Regions from separate parts of the Homo sapiens genome. Here region 1 is linked to region 2. Evidence: fine-mapped expression QTL. A gene starts in region 2. The other region holds a variant in brackets. All regions are shown on one strand. Distances are between the middles of the regions. Region 1 has its middle 11 kb from the start of NUBP1. Region 2 holds the start of TEKT5 (tektin 5).

Region 1 (5,384 bases), 38 kb before region 2:
GATCACGAGGTCAGGAGATCGAGACCATCCTGGCTAACTCAGTGAAACCCCCATATCTACTAAAAATACAAAAAATGAGCCGGGCATGGTGGCCTGTAGTCCCAGCTACTCGGGAGGCTGAGGTGGGAGAATCGCTTGAACCCAGGAGGCTGAGCTTGCAGTGAGCCGAGATCGCACCACTGCACTCCAGCCTGGGCAATGGAGCGAGACTCTGTCTCAAAAAAAAAAAAAAAAAAAGAAACTACGAAACTGTTTTCCATAGTGATTATGCATATTCACCTGCAGGATATGAGACTTTTAACTGCTCCATATTCTTGCCAGCAGTGGGTACAGACAACCTTGGATTTTAAATATTTCAATAGATGCATAGGTTACAGACAACCTTGGATTTTAAATATTTCAATAGATGCATACTGCTGTATTATTGTAGTTTTAATCTGCATTATTTTAATGACTGTGTTAAACATCTTTTCCTATTTATTTATTTATTTATTTATTTATTTTGAGACAGAGTCTCACTCTGTCCCAGGCTGGAGTGCAGTGGCCCAATCTCTGCTCACTGCAAACTCTGCCCCCCAGGTTCAAGTGATTCTCATGTGTCAGCCTCCCGAGTAGCTGGGATTACAGGCATGTGCCACCACACCGGGCTAATTTTTGTTTTTTAGTAGAGATGGGGTTTCACTGTGTTGGCAAGGCTGGTCTCAAACTCCTGACCTCAAGTGATCTGCCCACCTCGGCCTCCCAAAGTGCTGGGTTACAGTTGTGAGCCACCAGGCCCGGCCTGAACATCTTTTCATGTGCTCACTTGACATTACATATTTTTTGTTGAGAGTGTTCATTCAAATCTTCAAGTCCACTTTATAAAATTTGGTAATTTGTTTTATTATTGAATTTTGATATTATGTATATATTCTGGATGGAAGTCTTTTTTTTTTTTTTTTTTTTTGAGACAGAGTCTCACTCTGTTGCCCAGGCTGGAGTGCAATGGCATGATCTCGGCTCACTGCAATCTCCGCCTCCTGGGTTCAAGCAACTCGACTGCCTCGCCCTTCCAAGCAGCTGGGACCACAAATGCATGCCACCACGCCTGGCTAGTGTTTGTATTTTTAGTAGAGATGGGGTTTCACTGTGCTGGCCAGGCTGGTCTCGAACTCCTGACCTCAGGTGATCTGCCTGCCTCGGCCTCCCAAAGTGCTGGGGTTACAGACATGAGCCACTGTGCCCAGCTGGAAGTCCTTTATCAATAATGTGTTTGGCAAATGTTTTTTCCTAGACTGTAGCTTGTCCTTTTATTCTCTTAAAAGTGTCTTTTGAAGAGCCATTCTTAATTTTGATGAGGTTTTATTTGTTCATTTTTTTCTTTTATGTATTGTATTTTTGATATTATATCTAAGAAAGAGTTAACCGAATGCAATGCCACAAAGATTTTCTCCTGTTTTTCCTTCTAGACATATTATAGTTTTAGACTTTACATTGAGGTCTCTGATCCATTTGGAGTAAATTTTTGTAGGTAATTGTGGTATGTAGTGTGAAATATGGGTTGAAATTCATTTTTTTCTGTTTGGATATCCAATTGTTCCAACATCATTGGTTGAAAAGTCTAGCCTTTCTCCACAAAATTAACTTTGTACCTTCATTGAAAAATCAATGGACCATTTCTGGACTCTCTCTCTCTCTGTCTATCTATCTATACACACATATACACATATATATACACATTCATATATACACATATATACACATACATATATACGCATATGTATATACACACATATATATATTGAGCCAAAGTCTCACTATGTTGCCCAGGCTGGTCTTGAACTTCTAGACTCGAGCAGTCAGCCTGCTTCAGCCTCCTGAAGTTCTGGGATTACAAGTGTGAGCCCCTTCGCCTGGCCTGGAGTCTTTATTCTGTCCATTGATCTATTTGTCTATCTTTATGCCAATACCATATGGTAGTTTTATAATAAGACTTGACCGTGATCATACCACTGCACTACAGCCTGGGCAACAGAGTAAGACTCTGTCTCAAAAAAAAATAAATAAATAAAAATAAAAATATATAAGGCTTGAAGTCAGAGAGCCTAAATCTTCCAACTTTTTCTTTCCAAAGTTGTTTTCGGCTATTCTAGGTCTTTGCATTTTCATACAAATATTACAATTAATTTATTAATTTGTACCAAAAAAGCCTACTAGGATTTTGAATGGGATTGTGTTAAGTCTGTCCATCAATTTAGGAAGAATTGACATCATAACAATATGAAGCCTTCTGGTCCACACGTATGACATATCTTTCTATTTAAATTTCTATTTTATTTTATCTATTTTAAAATTTTTTTCAGCAACAGTTAGTAGTTTTTTCCTCAGTCTTTTTTTTTTCTCTTTGTTTTATTTTGGATACTTTCTATTGCCATGTCTTCAACTTCACTAATATTTTCTTCTACAGGGTCTAATTTGCATTGTTATGAATGGAATGCTTGTGTCCTCCTCCCCCAGATTCATATGTTGAAGCCCAAACCAAATACCAATGTGATGATATTTGGAATGGGGACTTTGGGAGGTAATTAAAGCTAGATGAGGTCATGAGGATGGGGTCTTCATAGTGAACTTTGTGCTTTTATAAGAACAGACACCAGAGAGATTGTGCCTTCTCTCTCTCCATAGGCACACACCAAGAAAAGGCCATGTGAGGGCAGAGCAAGAAGCCAGTCTGCAAGCCAGGAAGATAGTCCTCACCAGAACGCAACCATGCTGGCGCCTGGTCTTGGACTTCCAGCCTCCAGAACTGTGAGAAAGT[AAGTG/G]TCTGTTGTTTAAGCCCCCCAGACTATTATTTTGTTATGGCAGCCTGAGCTAAGACATGTTCTTAATCCCATCTTGCATCAAGATGGGATCAATATTTTGCGTCTCAGACATTATAGTTTTCATCTCTAGAAGTTCAGCTTAGGTTTTTTTTTTGTTGTTGTTTGTTTGTTTGTTTGTTTGTTTTTAAGTATCATTCATTTTTAAGACTGAATGTGCTGAATCTTTTTTCTAGTTTCTTGAACACATAGAATACAGTTATAATAACCTAAAATATCCTAATCTACTAATTCCATTATCTGTGTTATTTCTGGTTTGGTTTCAATTGATTGATTTCCTCCCCTCATTTTGGGTCATATTTTCTTGTCTCTTTGCATGGATACTGCCTTTTTTTTTTTTTTAAATTGCATGCCAGAGTGCTAAAAATGTTTGTGCTTTTACAAATATTCTTGATCTTTTTTTTTCTAGGACACAGATAATTTACTTGGAAACATTTTTATCATTTTGAGACTTCCTTTTAAGCTTTGCTAGATGGGGCTGGGTGCGGTGGCTCACACCTGTAATCCATGGCTCACACCTGTAATCCCAGCACTTTGGGAGGCTGAGGTGGGTGGATCACTTGAGGCCAGGAGTTTGAGACCAACCTGGACAACATGGTGAAAACCCTGTCTCTACTATAAATACAAAAATGAGCTAGGTGTGGTGGCACATGCCTGTAATCCCAGCTACTTGGGAGGTTGACGTGGGAGAATTGCTTGAACCCAGGAGGTGGAGGTTGCAGTGAGCCGAGATCAAGACACTGCACTGCAGCCTGGGCAACAGAGTGAGACCCTGTCTCAAAGGAAAAATTAAAAAAAAAAAGTTTTGTTAGATGGGACCAGAGTGGTATAAGTCCAGAGCTCATTTTGCCTTAATACTGAGGTAAAACCTTTCTGGGATCTGACTTGATGCTACATGAATTATGACATTTTCTATTGCAGTTGTTGGGATCAGGAACTACCCAGCCTTGCATGAGCTCTGGGAATTGTTCACTTTAAGGCCGGGGTGGTTCTTTCCCCAGCCTGGGGTTGTTTGCTTGCATGCACCTGCTCAACTGAAGACTTAGGGGAGCCCTCTGCCCATCTCAGGACATTCTCTGCATGGCCCTCTGCTGCCTCTGCTCCATCCTTCACACCCTAGCCACATCGGCACTCCTCCTTCCCAGCTCTGTCTCTTGAAGGTCAATGGACTCCCTTTGGCGGACTGTTCGTGTGCCAACGCCTGGAAACTTTCCTCAGGCAGTCAGCTGGGCAATTATAGGACACACTTCATCTCTTTCCCACAGCACGGGGATCACCATCCTTCAAGACCTGATGGCCGGTGTCTGGAACACCATTGCTTTATGGTTTTTGAGTGTTTTTGGAGTCATTTCAGGTAGGAGGGTAAGATCAATCCTTGTTTACTCAATCTTGTCTAGAAGGTGAAATCTATTAGATTTTTATTGATACACATATATATGTATATTTATATTTAAATACATATATATGTTATATGTATGTATATTTATATTTAAATACATATATATGTTATATGTATGTATATTTATATTTAAATACATATATATGTTATATGTATATTTATATTTAAACACATACATATGTTATATATATGTTTGCTTTTATGTTTTTGAGGAATAAATATATAAATAATGGTATGGAAGGGCTTGACTGAAAAGTAAAAGTCTTCTTCTGTACCCCATTCCCCTACTCCACACCTGCCCGGCCCACAAAGATTTCTCACTTTGGCACTGTTTCCTGTGTATCCTCCCAGAAGTGTTTGTGTGTACAATTCCATATGTATCTGCTTAAGTGGTATCACACTATATTTGCTGTTTTATACCTTGGTTTCTTCACTTAATATACCCTTTTATTATTTTTTTTTGAGACACAGTCTTGGTTTGTCACCTGGGCTGGAGTGCAGTGGTATGATCATGGCTCACTGTAGCCTCCACTTCCTTTGCAGCCTCCACTTCCTGGGCCCAAGTGATCCTCCTACCTCAGTCTCCCAAGTAGTTAGGACTATAGGTGTGAGCCACCATGCCTGGCTAAATTTTTTATTTTTTGTAGAGGTGGAGTCTCACTATATTGTCTCATTTTGGCCTCAAGTGATCCTTCCACCTCAGCCTCCCAAAGTGCGTGAGCCACTGTGCCCAGCCATCTAATACAAAATCTTTCCTTATCAGCCAATACTGGTCTGACTTACTGTTTTTTTTGTTTTTTTTTTTGAGATGGAGGCTGGCTTTGTCGCCCAGGATGGAGTGCAGTGGCACGATCTCGGCCCACTGCAAGCTCCGCCTCCCAGGTTCACTCCATTCTCCTGCCTCAGCCTCCCGAGTAGCGGGGACTACAGGTGCCAGCCACCACGCCAGGCTAATTTTTTCTATTTTTTAGTAGAGACGGGGGTTTCACTGTGTTAGCCAGGATGGTCTCGATCTCCTGGCCTCAAGTGATCCACCCACGTCGGCCTTCCAAAGTGCTGGATTACAGGCGTGAGCCACTGTGCCCGGCCACTTAATATGAACGCTTTCCTTATCAGCCAATACTGGT
Region 2 (5,327 bases):
ACTGTAAACACTAGATATTATAAATATCATAGATAGTTTGTTAATAGTGTGTTAACACTAGATATCACAAATATAGACATTTTATTGATATCATAGTGTGTTAACACTAGATATTATAAATATAGAGATTTTATTAATATCATTGTGTGTTAACACCATGTGTTAGCACTAGATATTATAAATATAGAGATTTTATTAATATCACAGTGTGTTAACACTAGAATTTGTAGCTGTGTTAGTTTACTAATATCACATTGTGTTAACACTAGATATTATAAATATCATAGATATTTGTTAACATCATAGTGTGGTAACACTGTGTGTTAACACTTGATATTATTATAAATATTTTAGATATTTTATTAATATCATAGTGTGTTATATATGACAATATCTAGATATATGCTATATATGTATGAATTATCTCTGGAAAAATCTGATAATATTAGTTATATCTGAGGAGGCTACAAGAAGCCAAGGATGATGAGAAACCCTAAATTTCACTTTATACTTGTTGATGTTACACAAAAAACCTTTTTTCCCCTCGCCTCCCCCTACACTTCCTCCAAAATAATATTTTACCATAACCATTTAGTGCTTAAAAAAATACTCGAAACTTTTTCGTCCATTTCTTGGCTGCCTTCTGTGTGTAGTCCCCTCCTGTATGTGACGTCCCATCTTAGAAGATCCTGAGAGGTAAGGGTTGTGAACGTCGGGAGGACCAGGGCCCACTTGCTTTTCTGATCCCACGCTAGAAGATGTGGGTGTGATGCCTTCCTTAAAGGTTTTCTGTGGAAATGAAATAAATGAGTCTATGTAAAGCACAAGAACATTGAAGATGCTTACTAAATGTTATTTATCTTCATTTTTGCTGCCTTGGTCCTCTCATACCCACTCGTGATTTTAGGCGATTGGGGGAAAATTGCTATTGAACATCATACTCTACTAACAAAGACCATTTGAGAGTTAGATTCATCTCTTTCCCAGTTCAACAGCAGAAAGAAGCCCCACAAATCAAGCACTCCTCTTGTTCTGTACCTTGTCACTTTGTTGCTACTCTCACCAGCCAAAGAGGGAGGAAAATTTCTTGGTGTAATTAAAATATTGTTATAGGCTGGGTGGTGGTGGTAGGGTGGGGGTGGGGGGCTCGTGCCTGTAATCCCAGCACTTTGGGAGGCCAAGACGGGACGATCGCTTGAGGCCAGGAGTTTGAGACCAGGCTGGGCAACATAGTGAGACCCCCATCTCTACAAAAAAAAAAAAAAATTAGCCAGGCATGATGACATCCATCTGTAGTCCCAGTTACTCGGGAGGCTGAGGCAGGAGGATCACTTGAGCCCAAGGGTTTAAGGCTGCAGTGAGCTACGATCATGCAACTGCACTCCAGCCTGGGCAACAGAGCAAGACTGTCTCTCTGAAAACAAAAAATTGTTATAGAATGTAGAGTTAATAACTTTTCTGGAACAAGAAAGCTCTCGTTTTAGATACCCATTCATTCACTCATTCAATAGTGTGCTGGATGCCAGGAATTTAATGGTGAGCAAAATAGACGTGGTCTCTGCCTCCTGATGCTCAAGATCCCTCCCTCTATTTTTAAAAATCAGGTTTATTGAAGTATAATTGATGTACAGTAAATTTTACTCTTTTTAGTGGAAACTTCTATAGGTTTCCACTAAATGTGTAACCAACACAATTAAGATCTAGAACATACTGTCTCGCCCCTCCCGATTTTCTTGTGCTCCTTTGGAGCCAACAACTCTCCCCCAACCTCTAGACCCTGGCAACCACTGATCTGTCCTCTGTCCGTATGGATTTGTCTTTTCCAGAATGTCATATACATGGACTAATACACAGTGTCATCTTTTGAGCCTAGCTGCTTCCACATAGCTTAAAATTTGAGATTCATTTGTGCTGTTTTGAGTAGTATTGCTGAGTGGTATTCCATGGTACCAATGAACCTTGTTTTTTTATTGGAGACAGTCTTGCTCTGCCACCCAGGCTGGAGTGCAGTGGTGCGATCACAGCTCACTGCAGCCTCCACCTCCTGGACTCAAGCCATCCTCCTGCCTCAGCCTCCTGAGTAGCTGGGACCACAGGTGCCAGCCACTGTGCCCAGCTCGTTTTAAAATTCTTTTGTAGAGATGGGGTCTCAATAAGTTGCCCAGGCTAGTCTCCTATACTAGTCTCCTATACTAGTAACTCCTGTACTTGAGTGATCCTCTGGCCACAGCCTTCCAAGGTGCTGAAATGACAGGCATGAGCTACCATGCCTCACCTCAGATGGACCATTTTGATGCCATGTTGGGGACAAAGAAAGAAAGAAAACAACTCGCTTTGACCAAATTGTCCCTGAGCTGATGAATTCACTGGGTAAACTACATTAATTTTCCTCCCGCCCAGTTGTAATAGGAAGATAAAATGTCACTTCTTGCAACCGAATCTGTGGATTATGAAACTCACATTCACTTTGCTGATTATTGTTTTTGTCTTTTTGTTTTGGACAATATGGCTGCAGCTGGCCTGTAAGTGAGCAAAGGCCCCGCTAAGAGTCCCTCTCCCCAGGCTTTATGACACCAGTGCTGAGTCATAGAGGTTCTGCTAGTCCCCAAGAGAAGCACTTTCACCTTTCCTGGTGATGCCTTTGGCTCCTTGAGCTGAGTTTTGCCCGAGTGGGGCTCATGAGGGAGGATGGAGTTTCTTGGGACTACTCAGACCGCCAGTTACTGTGGTCCCAAGAAATGCTGTGGCTTGACCTCACTGCCAGCTGTACAGGCGCCAGTGATCCAGGAATGCTATCAGCCCTACTACCTGCCCGGGTACCGCTACCTCAATTCATGGAGGCCTAGCCTCTTCTACAAGATAGCCAACGTCCAGACCTGCCCGGACGAGAGCACCAGTACCCTGCGGCCGCCCACCATCCTGCCCACACTGCGCTCCGCACTCTTCTCTCGCTATAGCCCCCACGACTGGGACCAGTCCAACCAGCTGCAGGTGCGTGGGGCCGAGGCCTCCCGGCTGTGGGCCAGCCGGCTGACGGATGACTCCATGAGGCTCTTGCAGGACAAGGACCAGCTGACGCACCAGATGCAGGAGGGCACCTGCCGGAACCTGGGCCAGAGGCTGTCGGACATTGGCTTCTGGAAGTCAGAGCTGAGCTATGAGCTGGACAGGCTTCTGACTGAGAACCAGAACTTGGAGACGGTCAAGAGGCGGCTGGAGTGCGCGGCCAATGAGGTGAACTGCCCATTGCAGGTGAGTACAGGGGTGGGGACAGGGCTGTGGCTGTGTCCTGGGGATACTGCACGCTCATTCTGCTTCCCTTGACTGAAGATGAAGGTGGCAGGCACCTTGCAGGTCGGTTTGAGCTGCATCATCGAATACGATCAGTAATACAATCTTAGTCAATTCAGGATAATCCCAGTCAAATCAGGGTTTCTTGGACTGAATAGAATTTCCTTTTCTCCTTGAAGCTACATCAAAGTTGCAGGGGTTTCATGAAAATATTGTGTGCATACTTATGCATGCCTGAGCATGTGTGTGTTCTGGTCCTTAAAGCACATGCTTAAAATAACTGACTTATTTATTTATTTTTTACACAGAGTCTCCCTCTGTCACCCAAGCTGGAGTGCAGTGGCTCGATCTTGGCTCGCTGCGACTTCCGCCTCCTGGGTTCAAGCGACTCTCGTGCCTCAGCCTCCTGAGGAGCTGGGATTACAGGTGCCCGCCACCATGGCCAGCTAATTTTTGTATTTTTAGTGAAGACAGGGTTTTGCTATGTTGGCCAGGCTGGTCTCGATCTGATCTTCCCGCCTTGACCTCCTAGAGTGCTGGGATTGCAGGCATGGGCCACTGTGCCTGGCCCATAACTGCCTTATTTTTCCCCGTAATACTTATCATTTAACATGCTCTATACTTGATTGAATATTAGAATACAGTATAGTCTCCATCAAGGTAGAGATTTTTGCCTGCTTTGTCACTGATGTATTCAAGACTGCTATTCAGTGCAGGGCACCTGTATGTCTGTGTGGGTCCGTAGTGACCAATGTCGGTGCTGACTGGTATTGTTTACACTAATGTTTTGAATGTATTCCCAGCCTAGGACAGGGCGAAGCACAGAGTAGGCATTCAATAAATACATGCTGAATAAATGAGTAAATATCTAAATGTGACTGGGCACAGTGGCTTACACCTGTAATCCCAGCACTTTGTGAGGCCAGGGCAGGTGGATCACCTGAGGTCAGGAGTTTGAGACCAGCCTGGTCAACATGATGAAACCCCATTTCTACTAAAAATACAAAATTAGCTGGGTATGGTGGCACATGTCTGTAATCCCAGCTACTTGGGAGGCTGAAGCATAAGAATCTCTTGAACCCAGGAGGCGGAGGTTGCAGTGAGCTGAGATTGCGCCACTGCACTCCAGCCTGTGCCACAAAGCAAGACTCCATCTCAAAAAACAAAACAAACAAACAAACAACAAACAAAAACTAAATGTGGACATTCCTAACACTTCCTTGGTCTCCTAGCCTCCAGTTGTCTCCCTGCTCAGTTAGGATAGTTTTTAGCCGCATGTAACAAATACTCCACGATAGTGGTTTAGCCAAACAGGAATTTATTTTTCTGTCATGAGGAAAATTCCAGAGGGAGACAGATCAGGCGGCTCCAGCCTCAACTTGGTGCCAGAAGGGACCCAGGCTCCTCTCTCTGTTCTGCCACCCACAGCATGTGGTTTGTGTTCTCCTGTTCCCAAGGAGGTTTTGCATTTTATACTGCAAGTTCCTGCATGCCAGGGGCCTCTTGATATTCTCATTCGAGGCAGGAAGGCAAGGGTAGAACAAAGAGCAGAAGCATCAATGGGCACCATTGCTTTTTATCAGGGAATGTCTTTTCTAGAAGGTCCGTCGTGTGTCTCCATGTTTAGCCTATTAGCCAGCACTCTCATGGACCCTGGATGCAAAGGGGTCTGGATAAGTGAATGTTTCTCACCACGTCCAGGAGAAAATCATGGAAGGGGTTGAGTGGACACTGGGTAAGGAACCAGCAGCACCTATGGGAACTGACTTTGGCCACAGAGGAAGATGATCGGCTGCTCCCTGGAGTGTGTGGGGAACTCAGGACCTCTTGCCTGGAAGCCTCCTGCAGCTACAGGGGCTTCCGTAGGAGAGATCCTGCCTCCGGATCTCCCTGGGAGACATGGCATAGGTTTCTATCACTCTAGGATGTCCAAATCCATGGAATGCAGGGAGCAGATTCTATACAACCCCAGATTCTCCCTGGGAAGAATGATGGGCAGGGCAGCTTTTCAGAGCCCTACAGCAGTATCCCAGACC

Evidence for each region. PIP is the estimated chance that this variant, and not a neighbour inherited with it, causes the effect.
Region 1: its variant is fine-mapped to the expression of TEKT5 in thyroid (GTEx, PIP 0.95). The same link has a PIP of 0.9 or more in blood mononuclear cells.

Annotation. Positions count from the first base shown.
Region 1 is chr16:10,730,626-10,736,009 of GRCh38, reverse strand. No RefSeq gene overlaps it. Among named protein-coding and RNA genes, the nearest start is that of NUBP1, 11 kb to the left of the region's middle. The variant AAGTG/G (reference allele first, on the strand shown) is at 2,798.
Region 2 is chr16:10,692,235-10,697,561 of GRCh38, reverse strand. It overlaps TEKT5 (tektin 5), which reads left to right and starts at 2,632. Exons shown (of 7, transcript NM_144674.2): 1 at 2,632-3,252. The coding sequence starts at 2,689. It overlaps LOC105371079 (a long non-coding RNA gene), which reads right to left. Exons shown (of 2, transcript NR_188625.1): 2 at 4,589-4,944.